Regions from separate parts of the Homo sapiens genome. Here regions 2 and 3 are each linked to region 1. The links come from fine-mapping of genetic effects on gene expression. A gene starts in region 1. Each other region holds a variant in brackets. All regions are shown on one strand. Distances are between the middles of the regions.

The links. PIP is the estimated chance that this variant, and not a neighbour inherited with it, causes the effect.
Region 2: its variant is the best candidate, but not a certain one, in a credible set for the expression of TSKU in adrenal gland (GTEx, PIP 0.76).
Region 3: its variant is the best candidate, but not a certain one, in a credible set for the expression of TSKU in fibroblasts (GTEx, PIP 0.79).

What each region holds. Positions count from the first base shown.
Region 1 is chr11:76,778,946-76,787,122 of GRCh38, forward strand. It overlaps TSKU (tsukushi, small leucine rich proteoglycan), which reads left to right and starts at 4,411. Exons shown (of 2, transcript NM_015516.4): 1 at 4,411-4,459. TSKU-AS1 (TSKU antisense RNA 1) reads right to left here and starts at 4,117. Exons shown (of 2, transcript NR_120562.1): 1 at 4,058-4,117; 2 at 3,636-3,911. RefSeq lists enhancers at 3,648-3,837, 4,072-4,716, 7,104-8,026 and a silencer at 4,268-4,357.
Region 2 is chr11:76,707,181-76,715,357 of GRCh38, forward strand. It overlaps the pseudogene GUCY2EP. Among named protein-coding and RNA genes, the nearest start is that of LRRC32, 41 kb to the left of the region's middle. RefSeq lists enhancers at 784-1,284, 2,933-3,434. The variant CCTT/C (reference allele first, on the strand shown) is at 4,684.
Region 3 is chr11:76,751,440-76,759,616 of GRCh38, forward strand. It overlaps LOC105369397 (a long non-coding RNA gene), which reads left to right and starts at 1,222. Exons shown (of 4, transcript XR_950337.3): 1 at 1,222-1,665; 2 at 5,669-5,859; 3 at 6,125-6,283; 4 at 6,610-6,861. The variant G/A (reference allele first, on the strand shown) is at 3,446.

The DNA.
Region 1 (8,177 bases):
GGCAGGGGAAAAAGCATGGAGGTGGAAGAGTGGGAGAGAAATATTTAGGGAAGCATTTGATTTGGCAGGATGGGAGAAGCATTTGTCATGCATTGACTGCTGAGACACCAGCAAAGCCCAGGCACAGAATTCCGCCCTCCAGAGGAATGGCTGGAGTTCTGTCCGTGAGCCAGTTTTCAGTTCCAGCTGTGCAATCCTGGGTAAGTCACTTCTGAGTCTCAGTTTCCACATCTGTAAAATGGAGGGGATAATCAACTACCTAAGAAGCCTGCTCAGAGGTTTAATGAGAACATGCATGAAAGGTCTTCCAATTCCAAGGTATTCTGTCATGTCCCGCGGTCCTCGTACTGACATCAGAATAACCAGAGGAACTTTTAGAAAACATAACCTGCCACATGCCACATCTACAGAGTCAGGGTGGGGGGCAGGGGTGGAGACACATCCTTTTTCTTCCAGCTCTTCTTTTCTGCTATTTCCACACATGGTCCTGATGCTTTATTAACTTAAGACCTGCCAGCTTCTGATAGCTGAAAAGAAGAAAATGCAGCAAGAAAAATAGAGATCCTGGAGGCTCATGGAGATACATTGGATCTGAAGGGTTTTCTGGTCAGGGCTTGATCGCTATAATGAAGGACAGAAAATGAAAGACCTGTCTCAAAACATGGAAAATGAGCAAAGCGGCTGAAGGGACGAATAGTGTCTTCTGACCTCCACTCAAGGGCTCTTCGAGAAAAGAGATCTTCCAACAGATCACCCGCAGCTTCAGTATGGCTGTTCAGGTAAGTCAATTAAAATCACACCACGACCAGACATGGTGGCTCACACCTGTAATCCCAGCACTTTGGGAGGCCAAGGCAGGAGGACTGCTTGAGCCCAAGAGTTCGAGATCAGCCTGGGCAAGATGATAAGACCCTCGTCTCTACAAATAATTTAAAAATTAGCGAGGCACATGGTGGTGTGCCTGTAGTCCCAGCTACTCAGGAGGCTGAGGCAGGAGGATCCCTTGAGCCCAGGAACTCAAGGTGGCAGTGAGCTATGATTGCACCACTGCGCTCCAGCCTGGGTGACAGAGTAAGACCTCATCTCTAAGCAAATAAATAAAAGCACACAGCACCCTATGGCTTATAACACATTTGCATCTGTATTGATTCATTTGATCACCCCGATATCCCTGGGAGATAGGGCTTCTTATTTATCCCTATTTTACAGGTAAGGAAACTGAGGCTTAGGGGAGAAAATGACTTACCCAAAGTCCACAGTTAGCCAGGGATAGAGGAGTGATGGTTTGCACCTGGGATCCTTAGATTCCCAGGCCTTTCTGCTACACCACCTCTGCTCTTTGTGGAGATTAAAAGGCAACAGAAAGAGCACTGGAGCCCTAAATGTTGTGCCAGCTCCGCAGAGAACATGCTATGTAACCCCAGACAGATCTCTTGCCCTTTCTGGGCCGCACCACTATCCATCTAGTGTGGTTGTTTGGATTAAATCATGATCTTAAAAGTATCCAGCACAGTCCCTGACATGTCACAGTGGCCAAGATGATCACAAGAAGGGGAAGAGAACGGTGAAAATGATGGTGCTTATATACAAAGGACATGGCAATATCACAGATGGAGAGGCCAACTTCGCCAGAGAGAGGACTCCCTGGGGGCGAAGACACTGAACAGACATGAAGAATGGAGAAGGTCCACCTCCCTTCCCTTACTTCTAGGTGACTAGGGGACTAAAACTTGGGATGTGTAAGAGGGGGTGGCCAGAACTGATGCTGGAGAGTTAAGGTGAGGTGGGGGCATATCACATAGGCCTTGAATGCCACACCAAGCAGTTTGGCTTTTGCCATTGAAAGGTTTTAAGCAGGCAAGTGTCATGATCCATTCTGCAGATCTGCAGTTTAGAAAGGGCACTCTTGCTGGAATGTGGACAGCAGACAGAAGAGGAGAGTCTAGAGGCACAGAGACTCTCAACTGGAGGCACAGTGATGAGGGGAGGTGGGTAAAGTTCATGGAGATCCACCAGCTGAAGCCCCTCAAGGCCACCTCTCCCTAAGGGGAGGTCAAGGGAAATGATGAATGTGAAAGTGCTCAGAAACTGCTGCCAGCTACCAGCCAGTGTGAAGGGTTGTTGATTACTTTTATGTTAAATGTGAGGCCTGGAGCCTCCAGCCCAGCTGGCTAGAACCTGCACACACAGTGCAGTGGGAGTTAGCTTCCCTGAGTTCCCGGGCAGTTGGGTATTTTCATCTCCAGTTCTCAGATGCTGAACTTGAGACTCGCTAAACAATTCCACATGGAGGAGAGGATGGAAATCGTTAGTCTAGGGCAAGGGGAGGGGGGCGCCATTCCTTCAAAAGAATGTCCCTATGGGAGGGGAGGAAGCAGGAGGAATATAAGCTAGACAAGCCAGGGAGTCCAGAGGTCATTCCCGGGCACCCTCCCCTCCCAAGCCTGCTGGGCTTTCCAGTCTCTACCCCAGTCCCTGACGGAAGACATTTAGCAACCACACAAAGGAGCTTCCTGTGAGCCAGACTAATGCTTTACCTAAATTACCTTGTTTATTCCTCACAATAGCCTCTTCTACAGTTGCAGACACTGAGTCTCAGAGAGGTTAGGTAACTTGCCTAAAGTTACCCAGAGCTGGTAAGTGGCAGGGCTGGAACCTGAATCCTGACCAAGCTTGGCCCTCACCCGATGCTGATTGCAGGTCTCTCTCCCATCTAGGCCAGGAGCCTTTAGAGAGGGGAGGGAATGGGAGGGTGGGAAATGGGAGGGGCCCGACTCCTCTCTATGGGTCCCAGGGGTTGTGGAGTTGAATCCCTGCAGCCCTTTTAAGCCCAACAGTGAGGAAGACACTGGATACCAAAGGGCCCATGGTGCCATCCCAAAGACTGATAAGGAGTGTGAGCTGGATGATCACAGAAGGACTCCTAGTTCTGAAAGCTGGGATTCTAATCAGGAGAGGACAATGAATGGAGAGGAGAGACGGGAGTTCTCCCTGCTTCCACACATATGAGACCAGGCTCCTAGCCTTTTCTCTGCACATTCCTAACTGGCAGGGTCCACAGGTGTCAACCCAAGTGCATCCCCAAGACCACACAATGGCTCTGAGTGCAGAAAGGACCTGCAAGACCAGTTTGTTTTCTGGGCAGCAGATGATTTTGCTGGCCTGAGGCCTGGGGCAGTGGTCTCCACTCCTACCTCACCACCTCTCTAGTGTCTTCCTTCTTCCCCAAGTAGACCGGCATGCATGCACACACAGGCCCAAGCAACTCCTTTTTTTTTTTTTTTTTTTAATGAATAAGAAAAAGTAATAAGGAAAGAAGCAGCAAGCAGACTGGGTGTGTTAACAAGTCTGGGCCACTGCAGGAGGTACATTGCCCAATTTCTGCACCCCGAGGCCCTCCAAAGTCTAGGAGAAGCTCCTGGGAGGTCCAGGGCCCAAGACCAAAGCCTCTATCAACTCTCCCACCTGTGAACTGCCCCTCTCCCAAGGTAGGCATTGTCGGGGTGTGTAGACTGGGAGCCACCCACACACCTGACTCTCCCCTCCTAGGAAATGCGTCCACCAGGTCATTTCTCCTGCAAACCCTCATTTTAAAGTGTCTTGGATGCTTTCCTGCCCTTTTTTTTTTTTTTTAACATAAAGAGGGGTGAGAGCCCAAGAGCTACAGCAGGGGGAATAGACTGAAACTGCTGCCTACTCACACGCCAGTTTCCCTTCTTAGAACTCTAACCAGAAGCCAATGGTTTCCTCCTAAAAGAAAAACTCAATCTGTTGACTTTCTCTCTCCTCTCCTGCCAGCTTTTCTGCCCGAGCCGGGCTCTCTCTTCTCTGTGGGTTCGTCTTTCAGCCAGTCTTTCTCTGCTTCAGATTCTTGGTTTCTTGCTCCCGGTAGTCCCTGAACCTCTTTCACTCTTTAAAAAAAAATGGGGAGGGGCGGTGAACAAGCAAAGAGGAAGCCCTCACCCACCCACCAAATCTCTTTCTTACTAGCAACTAATTCCCTCTCTCTTTCCACACACACAGTCATACACACACATACACATACACAGGCACGTACTCCGGCGACCTCCAGATGTTCCCGACAGTGCGGCCATCTGCTTAGATTGCTGGGGCGCGCAGGGGGAGGGGGCAGGGATCCGGGATGCAGGAAGCTGTGAGCGAGGCCAACTAGAGGGGGCGGGAGCAGCGCACTTTTGAGACGCTCCCTAGAGTGGAACCCGGGCTCGGCTCAGGCTCCGCGGGCGGGGCGCGCGCCGAGAGAGGCTGGCACTTTGGCGACACTCCCTGAGCCGCCCCGCGGCCGGCCCGAGCCGCCACCCGGCGCCCGGCAGGGGGGAGCCTGGCTGCGGGCGGGGACCGGGGGGCGGGCCGCGCCGCGCGGAGAAAAGCGCTGGCCGGAGGGCCCGCGGCCGGGCCGCCGGGGTGAGCGTGCCGAGGCGGCTGTGGCGCAGGCTTCCAGGTGAGTGCAGTTCCCCGGGCGGGGCGAGAGTCCGCGCTGCGGTTGAAGATCCCAAGTCCCCGATCCTAGCCTCGCGGCCCCTTCGGAGGGCGGGCTGGGGACGCCGGGCGCAGGGGCGGGGCTGGGTCCCGCCGAGGCCCCTCAACTTTCGTCGGACGCCTAGGGCTGGGCGGGAGTGGGGAACGCCGACCCAGGGGAGAGGTCTTGCGGGAGACAAAGGCTACGCCCAGGGGCCGTGTGGGTCTTTGTGCGGACACGTGCATCTCACGTTTGTGGGTCTTTGTGGATTTGCGGTCGGGGACGCGCCGCTGTCGGTGCCTTTGTGTGTCCGTGGCTTTGCGCGGCTGCTTTGCGCCCGTGTCCACGTTTGCGGGCCTGCGCTTGGCTGTGGGCGTCGGTGGGCGCATCGCGTGTCTCCGCGTACGTGGTCGGTGCCTGCCGACGTGTCTGGGCTGGGTGTCCGCAGAGGGTGTGCGCACCGAGAGCCCAACGCCGCCCCACCCCCCCGCTCCCCCGCCGTCCCCTCGGGCCCACGACTTGGCTCCAAACTTTTCTCCCGGTTCCTCGGGCAACAGCCCCAGTCCTCCCCACCGCTACCCGGCCGGGGGCGCAGACAGCCCTCCCCCTCCCCCTCCTGAGGTCCCAGGACAGCAAGGGGCTGCGACGGGATTGGTGGTCGGGGGATCGGCAGCGCCTGGGGACTGGCTGGGCAGGGGCTGGGCGGAGCGTGCGGACTCCCCCTCAGACCCCGGCTGGGAGGAAGAGGCGAGCGGTGGGTCCCAGGCTCCGGCCCTGGGCTGGGGAGAGGAAGGGACAGGGCGGCTGGCGTTGCCCTCCCCGCGCTTCTTGGAAAGAGTGTGATCCAGAGTTGCGTCTGTTTGGTAGGGAGACAGGCTCCGCTTTGAGACCCACTCTCCGTTTGCAGCCCGCCCCCGGGGTAGGGGGCCAACCCTCGGACCCGGTAGGGGAGAGGGGGACTGCCAGTCCAGATCTGGGCATGCCCGAGGCGCCGGCTCACAGGACCCGGAGCTGGGCTGGGGGCCGTGGGAGCCTCACATACACAGGTTTCAACTGGGACGGCCACTGGCCCCTGTGCGGCGCTGGCAAGTTGCTCAGCTTCGCGGAGTCGCGGTCACTCTGGCACGGACAGGGCGAGAACTCCCTCGCGGCTCGGGGCGTGCGGTGGGAATAACCCGCGCCTCTGGAGCCGGGCGGAGAGCAGCGCCAGCCCACACTTGGCCTGGCGAGGAGGTGACTCAAGACCTTCGATTCTTCTTTCATCTTTGTGCGCCCTGCCCTTCGGATAAGTCTAGACTTGCAGTGCCTGGGGCTGACCGGAGGTGGGGGGGGGGGGGTGCTCAGAGCTGCAGGAGCCTGCTGGGCTTTTGAGCCTAAGTCGCAAAGATAACCGTAAACACCCTCCTCCCCACTGCTCACTCCAGTCTTTAACCTAGAACTTTGTCGGATGCTGCAGACATGATGGAAGGGCACAGGCCGCTAACCTGGGAAAGAAACAACTGTGGGCATTTTCCTTTCCCTCTCCGGCCTCAGTTTCCCTTCTGGAAGGGGAGGTATTGATAGCCTCTTCTGTTCTGGCTGACTGCTTCAGATCCCAGAACCCAGAAACACTTTGATGTTTAACCTACACCTCCATTCTGACCTGACCTATTCCGAGGCACTACTTTGCTCCCCAGGAAGGCTGCAATGCAACCGCCACCGGGCTTCCACCTACCCTTCCTCCAACACCAGGAAAGGCAAAAGCTGATAAATGAGTCAAAAATGGAGAGGGAAGGGAGGGGGATTGACCTTTTCTCCTCTTACTTTTTAAATGACAGTTTGTGGTGGTAAAGTCCAGATCAGTCTTCTTCTTAATCATAACTCCTGGGTCAACACAGGGGATGCAGTTAAGAGTTCATGCTTCAGTTTTCAGAGCAAGGCTGGCCTGGGCACTGAGGACACTTCCTAAAGAGGGTTGGGTCCTCCCTGAAAGCCACCTGGCCAAAACAAGTCCTAAGAGGGGTTCTGTGGGAATAACCCGGAGAAGGGGCCTGACAGGAGATTCCTCCTGCTCATGGTTTTGAAGTCAGTGGGTACACAGGGGAGGCAGGAAGAATCTCCCACAAAAGGATCAGCATGTGCAGGACCTGTGCATGAAAACAGCACAGGTGGTCAGCATGGTGGACCAGCAGACGCAAGGTCTTGAGGGTGGTGAATTGGAAGTGAACTTGAGGCTGGGAAGGCAGGGACCAAATCACCAAGGCCTTGAATGTCAGGCCGAGAAGGGGGATTTGAGCCTGTAGGCAATGGAGAGCTCCTGGAGGATTTAAACAGGCACAGCAGGGTGCGGTTGGTAATTCTATGAAACCCGTCTCTGGCTTGTGGGTGGTGCTGGAGGCCGAGAGACCAATCTGGAGGGCGAGTGATCCAGCCTCTTAGAGTCAAAGGGACCCAGATTTTACTCCCACCCCATTGCTTCCTACCTCTGTGGCCTGGGACAAGTAACTTATTTAAAATGTGAGGATACTAATTCTTGCTCCACTGATTTGGTGTATTAAATAAGATAATGAATTACATGTGCAAATAAATAAAAAGTGGTTTGTAGTGTGTATTACATTGTGCAGACATTCATTGGATTGCACTGACAATAGAAGGCAGAGACAGCATTGACTCTGGTCCTAAACCTGATCTCACCAGCGGGCAGAGCCCTAAGCATCCTGCAGGGTTGCACCAATTGTTATGTTCCCCACAAAGCAGAAGGGAGCTTTCTGTCCATGACATTTCATTCATCTGATTTATCACCTTCATGTGGCCAGGCTCGTGCAGGCAAGGAGGTAGACACAGATTCGTAGATGGCCACAGAAGTGGGCCAGTACCTTGTCGGGGGCAGCCCAAGGGCCATGGGCGCTCACAGGATGGGTGGCCTTTCCTGGATGAGCGGCAGGTTAGACTGGGAAAGCCTCACAGAGGAGGTGGCTTTTTGAATGAAATGTGTGAGAGTTTGCTGGTAGACAAAGAAGGGTATCTTTGCATCAGAGGGAACAACGTGTGCAAAAAGGCAGGTGGCTCTAGAAGAGTCACAGGCCTCTAGACTAGAAAGCTGTCTCTGTGGGATGGGTTTTAAAGAGGGAGCTGTAGTAGGGTCCCAGACTTCTGTTGGGAAGTGCGTTCTGGTGCCAGCATGGCTGGCAGTTGGAGTCAGGCCAGGAGCGAGGCTGTTGCAGCAGGTCTCTTGAGCCTGACCTGGACAGGGGGAGGTGACTGCCCAGCTTAGGGATGAGGGAAAGGGAAGACAGTGACCCCAACTGCCCAGGGGGATCTGCGAATTTGATGCTGAGCCCTCATTCTGTCACAGGCAACACAGCAGCTTTTGCCTGCTTTGGTCTCTGAGACCTTTCCAGCTCACCCTTCCCAGTCTCCTGGGAGTGCCTTGTCAGCATCTTGTAGCCACACTGGGATCCTGGATGGTATGTGGAGAGAGGATCCAAGGCCTCTGGGATGAATTGTGGATTCTTCTCCATCTTCAGCCCCTGCCTTCCCTCAGGATTTGCTGGTGTCACAGCACCTTTTTCTTCCCTGGTCCCTGAAATCACTCACTGGGGACAGGAACCAACATTCAGTGAATACCAACATGTGCCAGGCCAGGTCTGGGTCTTCACTTTGCCTCATGTAATCATCACAGTGACCCGTTAGGACCAGCACTGGGATTATCACCATATTA
Region 2 (8,177 bases), 72 kb before region 1:
CTCTCCAGGCCTCATTTCTCTCCCACGAAGCCAAGAAACTAACACTGTTTCTTCAGAGGGCTGTGGCGAGGATGAAAGGAGGGGAGCATGGCCCTCAGCATGGGGCTTGACACTCAGGAAGGCATGGGACAAACGTCCCTGGAACCTGTGGTCCTAAGAAAGTTCTCCTTAAAAGGTGGACCTCAGGGGTGACAGTGCTGGGTGGTTGCCCCTTACTGCATGGCTTTCCAGGTCCCAGGGAACTCACAGGGCTTGCATTGAGCTAAGTGAGCTGAACGAATGGGCCATTTTTTGTGAGCACCTGCTCCTCTGGGGAGCACTCACCTGGCTGTAGATCTGGTCCATGCTAGGTCTGTCCTCTGGAGCCTCGTCCCAGCACTTCTTCATCAGCCAACGCACTCAGGCGGCCCGTGATCAGGGGTCACCAGCGGCCGGCACAGAGGAGGGGGAGATGCCACCCTCCTGATGATTTCGGCAACCAACACCATGGGGCGGGCCTGGGGTCCTGGGAAAGGTCATGAAAGGAGCCTGGCCTCGGATCCTGAGAGCGTGGGCAGAGTAGGCTTATGGCGGTGCCAGGTTCTGGGCCTGAGGATATTCCTCAGCTCCTGTTTCCAGGGTATGGCTGGCCAGTGGATGTGGCATTATTGTTCTCCTGGGTCTACCCTGGGTGTGGCCAAGGAAAGGGTCTCAAACTGGGGGCCAGGAGAGCCGCGAGCTGGTTTTGAATTCTGGATCTGCCACCACAATACTATGGGATGGTGGAGAAGACAATGACCTCTCTGAGCCTTAGTCTCCCGATCTGTGAAATGAGCATATAAACTGCCTTCTTTTTTCTTTTTTTTTTCTGTTCTTTTTTTTTTTTTAATGTCGCGATCCCAGCTCACCACAACCTCTGCCTCCCAGGTTCAAGCGATTCTCCTGCCTCAGCCTCCAGGCATGCACCACCACGCCCAAATAATTTTGTATTTTTCATAGAGATGGGGTTTCTCCATGTTAATCAGGCTGGTCTCAAATAAACTGCCTTCTTGAGAGGAGTGCTGAGGTGGAAGACGACGGATGTTAGCACCTGGCAGACTCTCCCCCACCCTCAGGCCCCGCAACAACTGCCGCTGCTCTGTTGCCAACAATGCCCACCAATGATCTTGAAACCTTGACAGCGCAGCTCTTTCCTCCAGCCTTGCCACGCAGACACTGGCGTGCCGGTTCCCCACAGGTGTGAACGACACTGCCTGCTTATCATTATCATCATCATTATGATTCTGTCCTCAAGAAAACCTGGCCACATGTCATCCTGTCTCCACACCAGGCTAAGTCAGTGCTCTAGTTCTGCTATGACTCTGAGCCTCAGTTTCCCCACCTAACAACTGATGGAAATAACCCCTGCCTCGGGGGGGCTGCTGGAGAGCCAGGGGGAGCCGAGCGATTCTAAAGTAGGCTGGGGGGAAGAGGGGCTGACACCGAGCTCAGGCTCTGGAGTCCACAGATCAGAGCGGGACTTTAGACGACCCATTTACAGTCCGCACAAGGCGCATCGCCTCTCTGAGCCTCAGCTTCCTCACCTGGAAGACGGGTATAACCATACTACATATTTGGAAGGGTTGTCATGAGGCAGAGTAGGTTAATCTCCTCTGAGGAGGGCCGGGATCCTCCTCTCATGAGTGAGGGAGGTGGGAGCCCTTGGAGCCAGGGAGGAGAAATTTCTTTCTGGGTTTCAGTCCCCTTCCCATCCCTTTTTGGCTTCTTGTTGGGGATAGTGCAGGAGTCACCATTCCATTTTACAGACAGGGAAACTGAGGCTCCTGGGAGTGAAATCAGGTACCCACATAGGGCCAGTCAAAAGCAGACACTAGAACGGGGCCTGGTTTGCACCCAGCCTGCACGATCTCCTCTGCCCAGAGGTTCCCAGCCTACAGGCGTTAGACCCTGAGGGCCCCCGAGTGTGGGATCTGGGAAGTCATATGTGCTTACAAAAGACTGTGTGCTGATGGAACCAGTCATACACCACATGCACACATGTACTACTGATTTTCAAAGGTATGCAGATGGCACTGTAACGAATACAAACAAATCCATTTCAAAGTGTTGCTGATTTCACAGCCGATTTTATCATTGGGTATGTTCTCAGTTAGTGGATATTAGAAGTCAAATAGTAGCATAAGAGGCTCTAACCATTTTTGACATTAAAATGGAGTCTTCATAAGTGAACATGCTGGGAACCCCTGCCCCAGGCCAGGCTAGGTCTCATGCTCCCCTCACTGCGCCAGGCATGCTGTCCACACCCCAGGCATAGCCATGATTTATGGACAGTGCTGAGGGCTGGGGGAGGAGGCTGAGCATCCAGCTCTGGTGGGATCTGGCTGGGCTCTAAGAGGATGCCCCACGGATGACACCAAGAGATTTTAGAACACTGAGCTTGGACCAGGGATGTCCACCCAATCCCAGGTCCACAGCTTCCCCTCTGAGAAGTCCCTTCCACTCTCTGAGCCTCACTGAACTCTAAAAGGGGGGCGATTAGCCACCTCCCAGGGTTGTCAAATGGAATCATGCACATGAAAGTGCCTTGGGAACTGCAAAGTGACCCCCCACCCACAGGATCCTAAAGAGATGTTAGAGTCAGGAGAGAGCCTGGGACCCCCCTTAGCACGCTCCTCACATCACCCTGCAGATATTTATTGAGGACCCACTGCATGCCAGGCCCTCTGTCTACAGCATTTCACTGAATCCTCACAGCTGCGCTGGAAGGCAGACATCATGGTTCCCATTTTACAGATGAGAACACTGAGGCTTGGAGCCTAAAAGGGATTTACTCAAAGTCACGAGGCATGTTGGTGTGGAGCTGGGCTTAGGATGGTGTTCCCTGGAGCCTGTGGCGTGAGCCCTGTACTCCCTGAGGCCTAGGAAAGCACACAGCAGGAAGCAGTGGGCCCTAGGCTGACAGCCTCCTCAAGGGTGGCCAGAGCATTCCAGACCTGGGTCCCTGCACCCAAAGCTGGATGGAGCCAGGCCTGGAGCGCCTTGCACTGGTGGCATGGCTTGCAGATCCCATCTGGCCAGTCCTTCCCTCCTCAGAGGCAGATGATGGGGAGGCAGCCGAGGAGTGTTGAACAAATGGTCTTATAAGGCCCCCCTTCTTCCCACTCCTCCACCTCATAAATTTGGGCCTGGAATGCTCATTATTCACAGGGCTGTGGTGGAGAAAGGCAGTGGGGCTGGGTCTCCTGTGAATTAAAGATTATCCACTGGGGTGGGAGCTGATGGTGAGCTCGGCACCGTCACTGCTCTGCACTGTGGGCCGAGGTGCCAGGTGTCTGTGGAGGGCCAGGTCCCTGGGACTGGGAAGAGGCAGCAGGAGGATGACAGAAAGAGAAGTCTGGGGTCCAGGGAGCCAGACAGAGAGCACAGAGGGGAGGAAACATTTTTGGAGTTGGGCCTTGGCACTGGGGCTGGAAGAGAGAAAGTGTGTACAGGCCAGGTGACGATGGGGAAGCTGCAAGTGATTATCCTGGGGAGCCAGAAGTGTGAGGACAGAGATGCTCTGAAGGAGCCTGCCTGGGCAGGTAACGAAGCCCCGTGGTATTGAGCAGCCTGGCCACGTTGGCCAAGGGGCTGGGGATCTGGCACATTGGTTACTGGATTCCCATTTATAGATGACAACACTGAGGCTCAGAGAGGGTAAGCGGTTTGTGTAAGGTCACAGAGTAAGACAGTGACACAGCTGGAGTAGGGCTGAGCTCTGTGTAGCCTGTGCTGGGCATGGAGGGCAGGTGCAGGCGGGGCATGAGCACCTACAGGCATGGCAGTGACACTGGGGAGGAAGGCAGGGGCGGGGATTTTCACCCAGAGCACAACGTCCTTAGCCCCTGGAGTGGGTCAGCTGCTATTCTGGCAGAGTTGCTGAAGGCTGTAGGGAAAAGAAAGAGAAATCAGACTGTTACTGTGTCTATGTAGAAAGGGAAGACATAAGAGACTCCATTTGGAAAAAGACCTGTACTTTAAATAATTTCTTTGCTGAGATGTTGTTAATTTGTAGCTTTGCCCCAGCCACTTTGACCCAACCACTTTGACCCAACCTGGAGCTCACAAAAACATGTGTTGTATGAAATCAAGGTTTAAGTGATCTAGGCCTGTGCAGGACGTGCCTTGTTAACAAAATGTTTACAAGCAGTATACTTGGTAAAAGTCATCGCCATTCTCTAGTCTCAATAAACCAGGGGCACAATGCACTGCGGAAAGCTGCAGGGACCTCTGCCCTGGAAAGCTGGGTACTGTCCAAGGTTTCTCCCCATGTGATAGTCTGAAATATGGCCTCATGGGATGAGAAAGACCTGACCGTCCCCCAGCCCGACATCCGTAAAGGGTCTGTGCTGAGGTGGATTAGTAAGAGGAAAGCCTCTTGCAGTTGAGATAGAGGAAGGCCACTGTCTCCTGCCTGCCTCTGGGAACTGAATGTCTTGGTATAAAACCCGATTGTACCTTTGTTCAATTCTGAGATGAGAGAAAAACCGCCCTATGGTGGGAGGTGAGACATGTTTGCAGTAATGCTGCCTTGTTATTCTTTACTCCACTGAGATGTTTGGGTGGAGAGAAACATAAATCTGGCTTACGTGCATGTCCAGTCATAGTACCTTCCCTTGAACTTCATTATGACATAGATTCCATTGCTCACATGTTTGTTGCTGA[CCTT/C]CTCCTTATTATCACCCTGCCCTCCTACTACATTCCTTTTTGCTGAAATAATGAACATAATAATCAATAAAAACTGAGGGAACTCAGAGACCGGTGCCGGTGCAGGTCCTTGGTATGCTGATCGCCGGTCCCCTGGGCCCACTATTGTTTCTCTATACTTTGTCTCTGTGTTTTATCTCTTTCTCAGTCTCTCGTCCCACCCAACTAGAAATACCCACAGGTGTGGAGGGGCAGGCCACCCCTTAAAAGGCTGCCCGGTTTAAGTCAAGTTCTCATGGTCAGACTTTAGGTGTGTGTGTCTATGTGGTCTTCAGGCCCAGATTTCCTGATTGCCATAGAATTTCCCACTAGGCAGAGACTCTAGCCAGGGACAGCCAAGAAAGGGGAGGAGGATACCTACCTTCCACTGGAAGTCCCGAGGAGCAGTAGAGTGGGCCCGAGTCAGCACCTCCTGCAGGATGATGCCAGTGCTGAAGATGTCCCCTGTGAGGGTGCGCCGCCCAGGGCGCCCAGGCCCCGGCAGCAGCTCAGGAGCTGTCCATAGCAGCTCTGCAATCATAGGGCAGGGCCATGCCACCATTACCTGCTGACCACCCAAGCCAGGCTGGGTGCATGTATTCTCCCCAATTCACAGGTAAAGAGCCTACAGCTTGTTCAGAGAGGAGAAGCGATCAACTCAAGGTCACCAATACCAGAGGACTGGAGATCTCCCTCTCCCTGCACCTTACAAGCACCTGGTTAAACAGAGGCCCCCAAACCTACTGGCAGCCCCCTGCCTATCCCTGAGCTGACCTTCTGGGGCTGGCCAGGGTTGGGGATCCTGCTAAGTGTCCAGGGGCTCTGCATAACCATGGTCAGTGACCTTGAGCACAAAGCATCTGTCCACCACACAGTTTTGGAACTTGAGGCAGCCAGGAGGGAAATGGTGGTGGTGCAGATACCTCATGCCCTGAGATGGACATAATGGGGGTCCATTGGATCTGTAACGAATGAGAGGAAACCTGGTTCTCTCGGAATTCCCACAAGCCCCAGAAAGCCTTCCTGCCTCCCTGTACCCGTGGCCATGCAGTTTGGATATCCCTGGATTAGACAAAGCTGAAAGAGCCCAGCTGTGGGAAATCTGAGCATCTCCTGTCTCCCTGCCATCCCCACTTCCCTGCAGTGCCAGGCCCAGGGAGGGATCTCATGCAGATCAAATCCAGCAGCAGGGAGGCCTTGAAGGTCCAGTCTAGGTGCAGGACCTCTTTCCGAAGCAGGTTCCCCAGAGATCACGAAAATGCCCAGGCAGGTGGCGACGTTCTCACACCGCAGCTCCCGCATCTGTCAGGGAAATTGGCACCTTAGCAGCCCTCAGGGGCCGTTCGAGGGCTGGACCAGGTGCAATCCACATCTAGGCCACCTGCTCTTAGCACCAAGCACAAGGCTAAGCATGGAGAGGCATCAGAAATGTTGAATGAATGGATGGAAAAACAGACAGATGGATGAATGGGTGGGTGGTGAGGGATGGATGGAGGATGGATGGATGAATGTATGCATGGATAGATGGTGGTGGGTGGTAGATGGATAAATAGATGGATGGGTGGGTGGGGAGCTGGTGGGTAGGCAGGTAGATGGGTGGGTGAGTGGTTGATGGGTGGGAGGGTGGATGGATGATGGGTGAATGGGTGGGTGAGTGGGTACTTGGTGGGCTGGTGGGTAGATGGGTGGGTGGATGGATGGATGAGTGAATGGGTGGGTGGCTGGGTGGATGGATGGGTTGGTGGGCGATTGGTCAGTGGGTGGATGGGTGGTTGGTGGGTGGGTGAGTTGTTGGGTAGGTGGATGGGTGGTTGGTGGATGGGTGTTTGCATGGTTGGTGAGTGGGTGGGCAGATGGATGGGTGGATGGGTGGGTGGATGAACGGGTGGATGGGTGGGTGGATGAATGGGTGGATGGATGGATGGGTGAGTAGATGGGTGGTTGGTGGGTGGGTGGTGAATGGGTGAATGAGTCAATAGGTGGATAAATGGCAGATCACTTGAAGCCAGGAGTTCTAGATCAGCCTGGCCAACATGGTGAAACCCTGTCTCTACTAAAAATACAAAAATTAGCTGGGTGTGGTGGTGCACACCCGTAATCCCAGCTACTTGGGAGGCTGAGGTGGGAGGACCGCTTGAGCCCGGGAGCCGGAGGTTGTAGTGAGCTGAGATTCAGCCACTGCACTCCAGCCTGGGTGAAAGAGCGAGACCCTGTCTCAAAAAAAAAAAAAAAAAAAAATCTACTCACATAGTTGCAAGATGCCCACTGGGAAATGCCTAACTTAACTTCCAGTCACTTAATCCTTCTGAACTTTATTTCAGACTGTGGTGATATTGGAGATATCAATAAAATTCACCATGTATCAAAAGCACACCACTTGCCAGGAAGAGTTCTAAGTTATTTCATGCATTCTCTGCAATCATAATCCCCCAGAAGGTGGCTATCACTAGCTCCATTTTACAGGAAAGCTAAGAGTTCCATGGAGGCAAGATTTCACCCAGATCTTCCTGACTCAAGTCTCATGCTCTGTCTCCATCCCTCAGTGCCTCTCAGGATGGTAATGATCTTGGGGGTGAAAATGCTTATGTGGTTAGTGATAACAGGTGCTTAGGATCTCCCTGAGGGAGGGGACTTTTTCTCTCTTCTCCATTCTGTATCCCCAAAGCCCAGAACACTGCACATAAGTGCCTGGCACATAAGTGATGCTCAGTAAACAGTGAATAAAAGAAAGGATGGGTAAAGGGAGGGGGCTGCAGGATGAGGTCCCTTCATGATGAGTTGCCATGCGAGGGCATTGATGGAGGACACTGCGCCCTGGTGGTTATGGGGATTATGGGTTATGGGGTGGTGACGTGGCTTTAAGGATGCTGGCATGGGACAGTGACAGCAATAGTGAACCACTGTGATTGAGGCATTGGCAGTGGGCAGGATCATGATGGCAAGAATAATTTCCTCTTTGAGACCAACCTGGATCAGTAAGGGTGTCCTGAGCAGCCTCACTCCCCACCCACCTTCTGCGCCCTCTACAGCCCTGCCTTCCTCGGGAGGCTGAGGCAGCTTGGGCGCAGCTCAGGGTCTGAGCCCACTTCACACTTCTTCAGCCACACCCGGTCTCCCTGTTCAAGGAAGAGCAAGAGTTTAGCTGCTGCTGCTCCTCAGCTGTGGGACCTCAGGAAAACCCCTCTACCTCTCTCAGCTCAGTTTCTTCCCCATCAACGCATTCCTTCTGTGTGTTCTGAGCCAGGCACAGCCTGGTGAGCGGAAACATTTGCTATAAGCCGGGCAGAGCCAAGGGCCGGGCTTTGGCTGATGGACTCCAGTTCCAGTCCTGACACCACCACTTTCCAACTCTGTGACCTGGGGTGGGTGACTTCAGTTCTCTGAGCTGCAGGTTCCAAATCTGTAAAGTGAGGATGATAGCACCCACCCACATCTCAGGGGCTTAATGAGATGGTGGGTATCAAGTATGCTCG
Region 3 (8,177 bases), 28 kb before region 1:
ACTCAATCTGCTGTGGGCTTGAGGGCCACTAAAAAGCAAGCCAGGCCCTTTTTCCACGCTCCTTAACAGTTTGGGCTTAAGTAGGGCAACTGCCCCAGCATTTTGTGACTCTTAATTTTTTATTTTAAGTCTTGCACTAGGATTATCATAATTTATATAAGGGCAAATGTGTATGAGCACTGACTGTGCACTTTCACATTCCTTATTCAATTTCATTCTCTTCGCAAGTTTGCAAGGTAAGTTTTACGTCTCCATTTTCCTGAGAATCTGATATATGCAAAGCCACAGGTGATCAGCGATTGAGATTCAGTCATTCATCATCTCCTTTTCCCTTCATTTGTTTACTATTCAATTCTTTTTGAGCATCCCCCCTGGCCAGCCACAGAAGGCATAGATGGGATTTGAACACAGATCTCCTGACTCCTGGCTTATTCCTTTGTCAGGCATTCAGATTCCCTCTCGAGTAACATTTATCAAGAGCCTTCAGTGTTGGAGGTTTTATCCATGTCTTAACATGTAATTCCCATAACAGTGTACCAGGAGGGAATCTGCTGTACCACTTTACAAGTTAAAAACAGAGGCTCAGAAAAAAGAAATCGTTTGTCTGAAGCCTCCCATTGGCAGAGCCTAGGATCCCACAGGGCTGAATCTAACCTGTAGATTCCCACCTCAGGGTTCACATTCCATCCCATTTTTCCTTTCTCTGCCTTGCCCTCTCGTGCCTGGGTTCTCTTATATCCCTCGGGCTGGGTTCTGGGGTGAAAACTGAAGCAGCGAGCTATCTAACAGCCCAGCTCCCAGCGGGCTCTGCGGGGGAAAGGCAGCAGAGGAAAGCATTCCCCGGTGTGTGTATGTTTGGGGGTGGGGGCATAAGTGCAGCCCCGGTTCTGAGGGCTGCTCCCTCGCCAGGCACTGGAGCAGTCAGGGCCTGGAAGGGACCAGGCTACTTCATGCAGGGTAGGGGTGGGGCATCTCTAGGCCAGCTAAGCTCAGATGACCTTGGCCATGGGTCACAGTCAGTCCCTTCTCCCCCTTGGGAAGGCAGCGCTGGGATGTTGTGGGTCCAGTACACTCCCCCGACTGTCCTGGGGCACACACCCGACAGAGGTGTGTGGAGGAGGTGGGGTGGGAGAGGGGACTCAGGCTGGTCAGGGCAGGTTCGGAGGCGGGCCTGGTTTGGAGAAACAACCACCCATCAGCCAGGCTTGGGGAGGGGAAGGCCAGAGGAGAGGAAGGAGGAGTCTGGAGAGGGGAGAGAAAGACGTAGAAAAACAGACAAGGAGAGAGGGCAGGAGTGGGGGACACAGGTACTGGGAGAGAGTAGAGACACAGAGACAAGAGAGAAAAGGCAACAAAGACAAAGCCAGAGACGCCCAGCCCGAGAGACAGAGCCACACGGAGAGAATGGAGAGGGGAGCAGGGTCAGAGGGCCCGGACGACGCAGAGAAGGACGCGAAAGGACGTGAGAGGGACTTCCCCCAGGGGCAGGGAGAGGCCTTGGGCAGCTCCTCCGCTGGGCCGGGCTGCCTGCCTGCTGGACTCCGGGAAGGAGGCAGTGACCGCACCCATCTGGAAGCTGTCAGGTCCCTCAAGGATGAGGGCGTTGGGAGGAAGCCAGACATGAGCCACGTCTAGAGAGAGGAAGCGGCGGGATTTGAAAAAGATGTGAGTGGGCAGAGGGGGCAGGGAGGTTGCAGTAGACTGGGCTCTCCTGTCTGGAATTTTTCAGTGGGGAAAAGAGAGAGTCTGGCAGTTTGGGGCTCTTCTGGAGAAGGCCTGGACTGGGCAGGTTGATCAGAGAAGGCCAGCTCCCCAACCCCACCTCTAGGAAAACAGAGCCCTAGAGAAGGGAAGTGAAGACCCAAGGTCACAGTTTTCAGGTCATGTCATCATTCATTCATTTATGCACTCATTGATTCAGCAAACATTAACTGAGTCCAGTACTGTGCTAGGTTCTAAGGGAACATAGATGAGCATTAGATAGTCTCTGCCCCAGAGCCCACAGTCTGTGGGGAAGATGGATGTGACTACACAGTGTGCCAAATGCCACCATGCAGAGAAGCCCAGGGGTGTGAAGGTCATTCTGGGGGATTCAAAGGCAACTCCCTGAGGAGGGATACCAGGGCTAAACCGAACCGACCAGGAGGAGCAGGGAGGGAGGGCATGCCAAGCTGGGAAGGCCAAATGACCAAAGTGTGTCACACTGGTGGGGGGAGTCATCAAATTCAGCTCACTTTACTCTCCAGTGCACAGGGAAGCTGTGATTTTATGTGTTACTAATCTGACTTTCCTCCCAAACTCCTCCCTCCCTGCCCTAACCCCAGGTTGGCGGGAAAAAGTTACAGAATGCCATCTAATTTGGTTGAAAGTTTGGTCTGATCTGATCATTGAAGCTGTCTAGGTAATATCAGTCTGTCTTGTATAAAAACGTCCTGTCCCTCAGGTCGCTTCCCCTTTCACCTGCCTCTCAGCTGTGTGGGAGCATCAGGAGTGGTGGGGGAAAGGGTTTTTAGTGGGAGCAGCCAGGCAGGCCGATCGTCCTGAACCGGCAGATGCAGTCAGTGCCACTGCCTCTCCAGGGCCATCCTGCGCCTGTCCAGTTGCTGGTTTCTCCCATGGGGTCTCCAGCTCAGGAGCTCAGGGCCTTCCTTTAGCCCAGGCCGTTCCTCCAGTGGTGGCCCTGGCCAATCTGACTGCGCTTGGGCTCCTGGTGCTTGCAGACCCACAGTCTCTGCCCTGGTCCCCATCAATCCCCCTGCCCAGTGGGCTCTCATCGGCCTCTGCCGCCCGGGCCCTTTACCCTTTCAGGCCTATTGGTTCACTGGCCCTCAATTCAGCCTCCTGGTGCCCTTGGGACAGGCCAGCCCAGGGAAGCTGACGCTCAGGCCTCCCTCTCTTGGGCCACATTGTAAGTCTAAGTTTACAGGGCTGCATTGCCTTGTTGCTCAGTGGCATTCCATAGTATAAATATATTGGAGTTTTTTGTTTTTCTTTTTTGAGCCAGGGCCTGGCTCTGTTGCCCAGGCTGGAGTGCAGTGGCACAATCTCAGCTCACCATGACCTCCACCTCCCTGGCTGAAGCCATCCTCCCCCAATCAGTCCCCCTAGTAGTTGGGACTAGAGGTGCACGCCACCATGCCTGACTAATTTGTGTTGGAATTTTTAACCACTTCTTATTCTTGTACATTTTCCTCCTATTTTTCACTATTATAAACAGTACTACAATAAATATCCTGTACTTTCCTCTTTGTGCACATATGCAGGTGTTTTTCTGGGGTAGATATCATGAGGTGAATTGCTGGGTCAAATACATAAAGATATGTGTATTTAAATTCTAATAGAGCAGGAGTGTCTAATCTTTTGGCTTCCCAGGGCCACACTGGAAGAAGAGTTGTCTTAGGCCACACATAAAATACACTAACACTGGCCAGGCGTGGTGGCTTAC[G/A]CCTGTAATCCCAGCACTTTGGGAGGCCAAGGTGGGTGGATCACCTGAGGCCAGGATTTCCAGACCAGGCTGGCCAACATGGTCTCTACTAAAAATACAAAAACGTCTCTACTAAAAATACAAAATACTAAAAAAAATACTATATATATATATATATATATATATATATATATATATATATATACACATATATCTGGGCATGGTGGGGGGCGCCTGTAATCCCAGCACTTTGGGAGGCCAAGGTGGGTGGATCACCTGAGGCCAGGAGTTCGAGACCAGCCTGGCCAACATGGTCTCTACTAAAAATACAAAAACGTCTCTACTAAAAATACAAAATACTAAAAAAAATACAAAAAAAATTATATATATATATATATCTGGGCATGGTGGCGGGCGCCTGTAATCCCAGCTACTTAGGAGGCTGAGGCAGGAGAATTGCTTGAACCTGGGAGGCAGAGGTTGCAGTGAGCCGTGAGCCGAGATCCCGCCACTGCACTCAAGCCTTGGCGACAGAGCAAGACTCTGCCTCAAAAAAAAAAAAAAAAAAAATACACTAATACGATAACTGATGAGGTAAAAAAAAATTCACAAAAATGTTTTAAGAAAGTTTATGAATTTGTGTTGGGCTTCATTCAAAGCCGTCCTGGGCCACATGCGGCCCGTGGGCCACAGGGTGGACAAACTTGTAATAGAGTCTATCAGATGGCCTCCAAAAAGGCTACGCCAATTTACATGGCCAGCAACTCTTATCAACATTTACTATCATCAATATTTTTCAAAATGTGTCAATGTTATAGGCAAAAACGAATTTCTGATTTATGTTCCTTTTATTTATTCATTTATTTATTTATCTATTTATTTGTTTGATAGAGATGAAGTCTCCCTATGTTGCTCAGGCTGATCTCAAACTCTTGGGCTCAAGCAATCCTCCCACCTTGGCCTTCCAAAATGCTGGGATTACAGGCATGAGCCACCACGCCCTGCTCATGTTCCTTTTAAACTTCCATTTCCCTGATGACCAGTAAGGAGGGCATCTTTGCATGTATACATCCTTTTTATTTCCTTTTCGACTTTCCTATTCAAACACTTTGCCCAGTTTTCTATTTTGTCTGTCTTTTCTTATTGATTTACAGGAGCTGTTTCTATTGCCCAGACATTGATCTCTTCTTATACACGGGGCAAATATTTCTCTTGATTTGTCATTTACGTCTTAACACTATTCTGTCTCTTATTACAAAAAAAGTTCTTAATTGATATGTGGTCAAATGTAGCTGACTTAATTCTTTAGGGCCATTGTGCTTTATTTTTTTTTTCTAAATTAAAATTAAAATTTGCTCAGATCTCCAATCTTATCTCTCTTGGGGAGAGACCCCCTGAATTGTCCCCCACACAGTGGGAAAGGGACTTAGTTCAACCTTCCCAGCCAGTGAGCCAGCACCTGTGTCCAAGGAACCCTTGCGGCCATCACTCCTCCCAGCCACCAGCAGCACCGCATGGAAACTTGGTCCTGCCAGCTGCAGCAGGGCCCTCTGCCAGGCCATCGTGGTCCCCTGAGGGATCATCCCACTACCTCCATGCCAAGCTCAGATAAGGGTGCACCTGGTCTCTTTGCCTGGCAGCTCTGCCTGCGTGGCCCCTGGCCGTGGGTGGTCCTGGCTGGGTGGAGGCTGGCGCCACCATTCTCTCAATGATAAGACTTCTGTTCCCTCTTCTCCTCTGGGTTGGCTCAGGGGCCTGGCAGCTTTTCCTTTTCAGCCCACAAAATACTTTAATTACACTCTAATTACACTCCCATTCCCTGCCCACACTGCTGTCCCCACCCAGGCATGGCTTTTCTCCATGCTTCCCTGCCCACCCCGTTCAAAGGGTGGCTGTGTTTCCCACGAGCTGAGAAGAATACAAATCCTCCAGCAGCAACCTCACCCCTTACCAACCCCTTGTACCCTGACAGCCTAAGCATATGGTGTTGCAGCTATTAGGGGGACCCCATTCTCGTTTTTCATTCCCAGGCAACCCCAGAGTCCAAGATGCAGGTTGCTTCTGGGGTCTGCTTTCTCGAGAACCCTGACCCACCCCTGTTCCTCCAGTGACCCCTCACTCTCCTAGGACTGTGGGGGCCTGCCCTGCAGCAACGTTGTAAGGAAGGCCACATTCAGGAAATCCAAGGTCATTTTCTGCCTATTACGCTTCTTGTTAAATAAAATACAACTTAATTCCTTACAGGGCCCTCCTTCTGGGAGAGCACCCACTGCTCATCTGAATTCTAGAGAACCACTCAAGTGCATATAGACGGCATCCATCCTAAGAAGGAAAGTGCTCTCTAAGAAGCCACTATGCCTGAAATGCCACCATATGTATACACCATTCCACTATGGAAAACATTGCCTTTTCGGGGCTCTTCCTGTGAAATGCAGGTATATTTAGCTCTTCATGCTATAGTATGAATTAGCCTATCACTGGGTTCCCTTGTGACAAGAAAGCCCACGGCAACCAGACTGCCCAGGTTTCCCAGGGACATCCTGATTCTAAATATTAAAACATTGCATTAACCGGAATCTATATAACAAAAGTGTGTACTCCCTACACATCATTCTGTTCTTTTCAAGGAAATGGTTTGTTGAGTGTGTGACTGCATATGGTTTCATTTTTATGCCTTATTGACACTTAACCCTGTCCCAGGCCATGAGCTCTTGCTGGACATACCAGAACAAAGACATAGTCTCTTCAAGATGGCATTCACAGCCATAGGGCAGGACGACAGGTGGGCGACAACCATAGCCAGCAGAAGAGCAGACACTGGAACAGAGGTTCAAACCAACAACTATGGAGCGAGCTGAGGTGGTAACTCATGGTCCGGGGAGCTGAGAAAGTCCTGAGGGATCTCTGGGTGTAGCCAGATGGAATAGACTGGCAAGGGCATTCCAGACGGAAGGAACAGCCGTGCTAAAGCCCAGAAGCTGAAAATAGCATCTCGCTTTCAGGGAGTGGCAATCACCTCGCTACTGTGAGGGCTGGAGAAGGGGCGGGTGGAGTGAGAGGAGGGCAGCAAGGCAGGGGCCAGGTCATGAAGGGCCTTGCATTTACCAGTCTAGAAGGGAGTCTGCAGGTTTTATCTTGAATGCAATCAAGACTCATGGAAGATTTTATTTATTTCTTTATTTTAGCCTTTTATTGAAGCGTAATACATATACAGAAAAATTCACCTATCATAAGTATGCATCTTGGTAAATTTTCACAAGGAATATACCCATGGAACCAACATCCAGATCAAAATCTGTCAGGCGTCTAGCACCCAGAAGCCCCTGCGGGTCCCTGCCAGTTACTATGTGCCCCCAAGGCTGACCACTGTCCTGTCTTCTGGTACCACAGGTTTGTTTTGCCTGTTTTTTGAACTTTATAAATGCAAGTGTACAGTATGAACTGTGTCGTGTTCTGTTGTTCAACAGGACGTCTGTGAGATTTCTCAATATTGCAGCTATCTCCGTAGCTTGTAGCACTCCATTGTGTGAATCCGCCACTGTCTGTTGATGGGCACTGGGTGGTCTCCAGTTCTTGGCTATTATGCATAGTGCTCTGAATATCCTTGCATGCGTCTTTGGTACACATGCCTGTTGGGTATATTCCCAGGAGTAGACTTGGTGGGTTGGAGAGCATGCGCATGTTCAACTTGAATATGTGACGCCAAATCATTTTCTCAAGTGTTTGTAGATGGAGGGTTTTGAGCAAGGAGGTGGCAGGAGCAGGCCTGGGTCTCGGCCGTCCCTCTCTGCACAGGCTGAGTGTGAAGGGCATAGGGACATCCCAGTGGAGCTGTCCTAAGGCTAGAGAGCAGTGGGTCTGGAGCTGGGGAGCTGGGGAGCTAGGCAGCAAGGCTCTGGGCTGAAGAAGGTGGAGAGGGTGTGGAGTGAGGAAGGTAGGGACCAGGGCCAGGCCATGGATACAGCCATAATGAGGATGCCACGGAGACAGAGGAGCCCTCAGAGGCAACTGAGGAGGTGCAGCCTAGAGAAGAGGGAAGACCCGGCAAGAGGAAAGGAAGCAAATCACATGGGTGCCAAGGGGAGCATCTGAGGCAGAGGCAGGCATAGAGCACCAGAGGCACTAAGAGGGCCAGTTAGTCAAGACTGAGCAGGATGTGTCCACCAGACTTGATAAGGGAGCTGTGGGGACCTTAAGGAAGTCATGGTCAATGGGGTTGGTGTGTGTGCCAGACTGCAACAGGACAAAGTAGGGAAGAGATGAGGGATGAGCTTTAAGAATTCAGCACTGCCCCTGGAAGCATGGTATTGGTGCTACTGAAGTCAGCCCACCTGGAGGCCCCAGCATCCTCCCAGATGCAGTGGAAGCCATTCTGCCATTCCAACTAACAAAGGCCTCCCATGGCCAGTGCATTGTGGAGGAGAGTGGGGTGGAGATTCAAGGAGATTAAAAGGGCCAGGCAGTTCTCTCTACTCTTCTGTTGTTTATCTGAAGCTTAAAGGTGATTAGAGAGTGTAGAAATGGAGTAGCTCTGTGGGATAAGAATGAAAACAAAGAACTCCCCACAGACTGTTTGCAACACAAGGCAACTTTGGTCACTGTCCAGGTCTTTTCCTCCCTGGGGACACCTTGCCATTTACTCTCCCTGAGTGTGGCTCTCTCATACCAAAGAGACCTATATCCTAACCCTAGAGATGACAACCACAGCAGAGTATTCTGCCAGGCCTCGTGTTAAATGCTTCCCACACAGCAT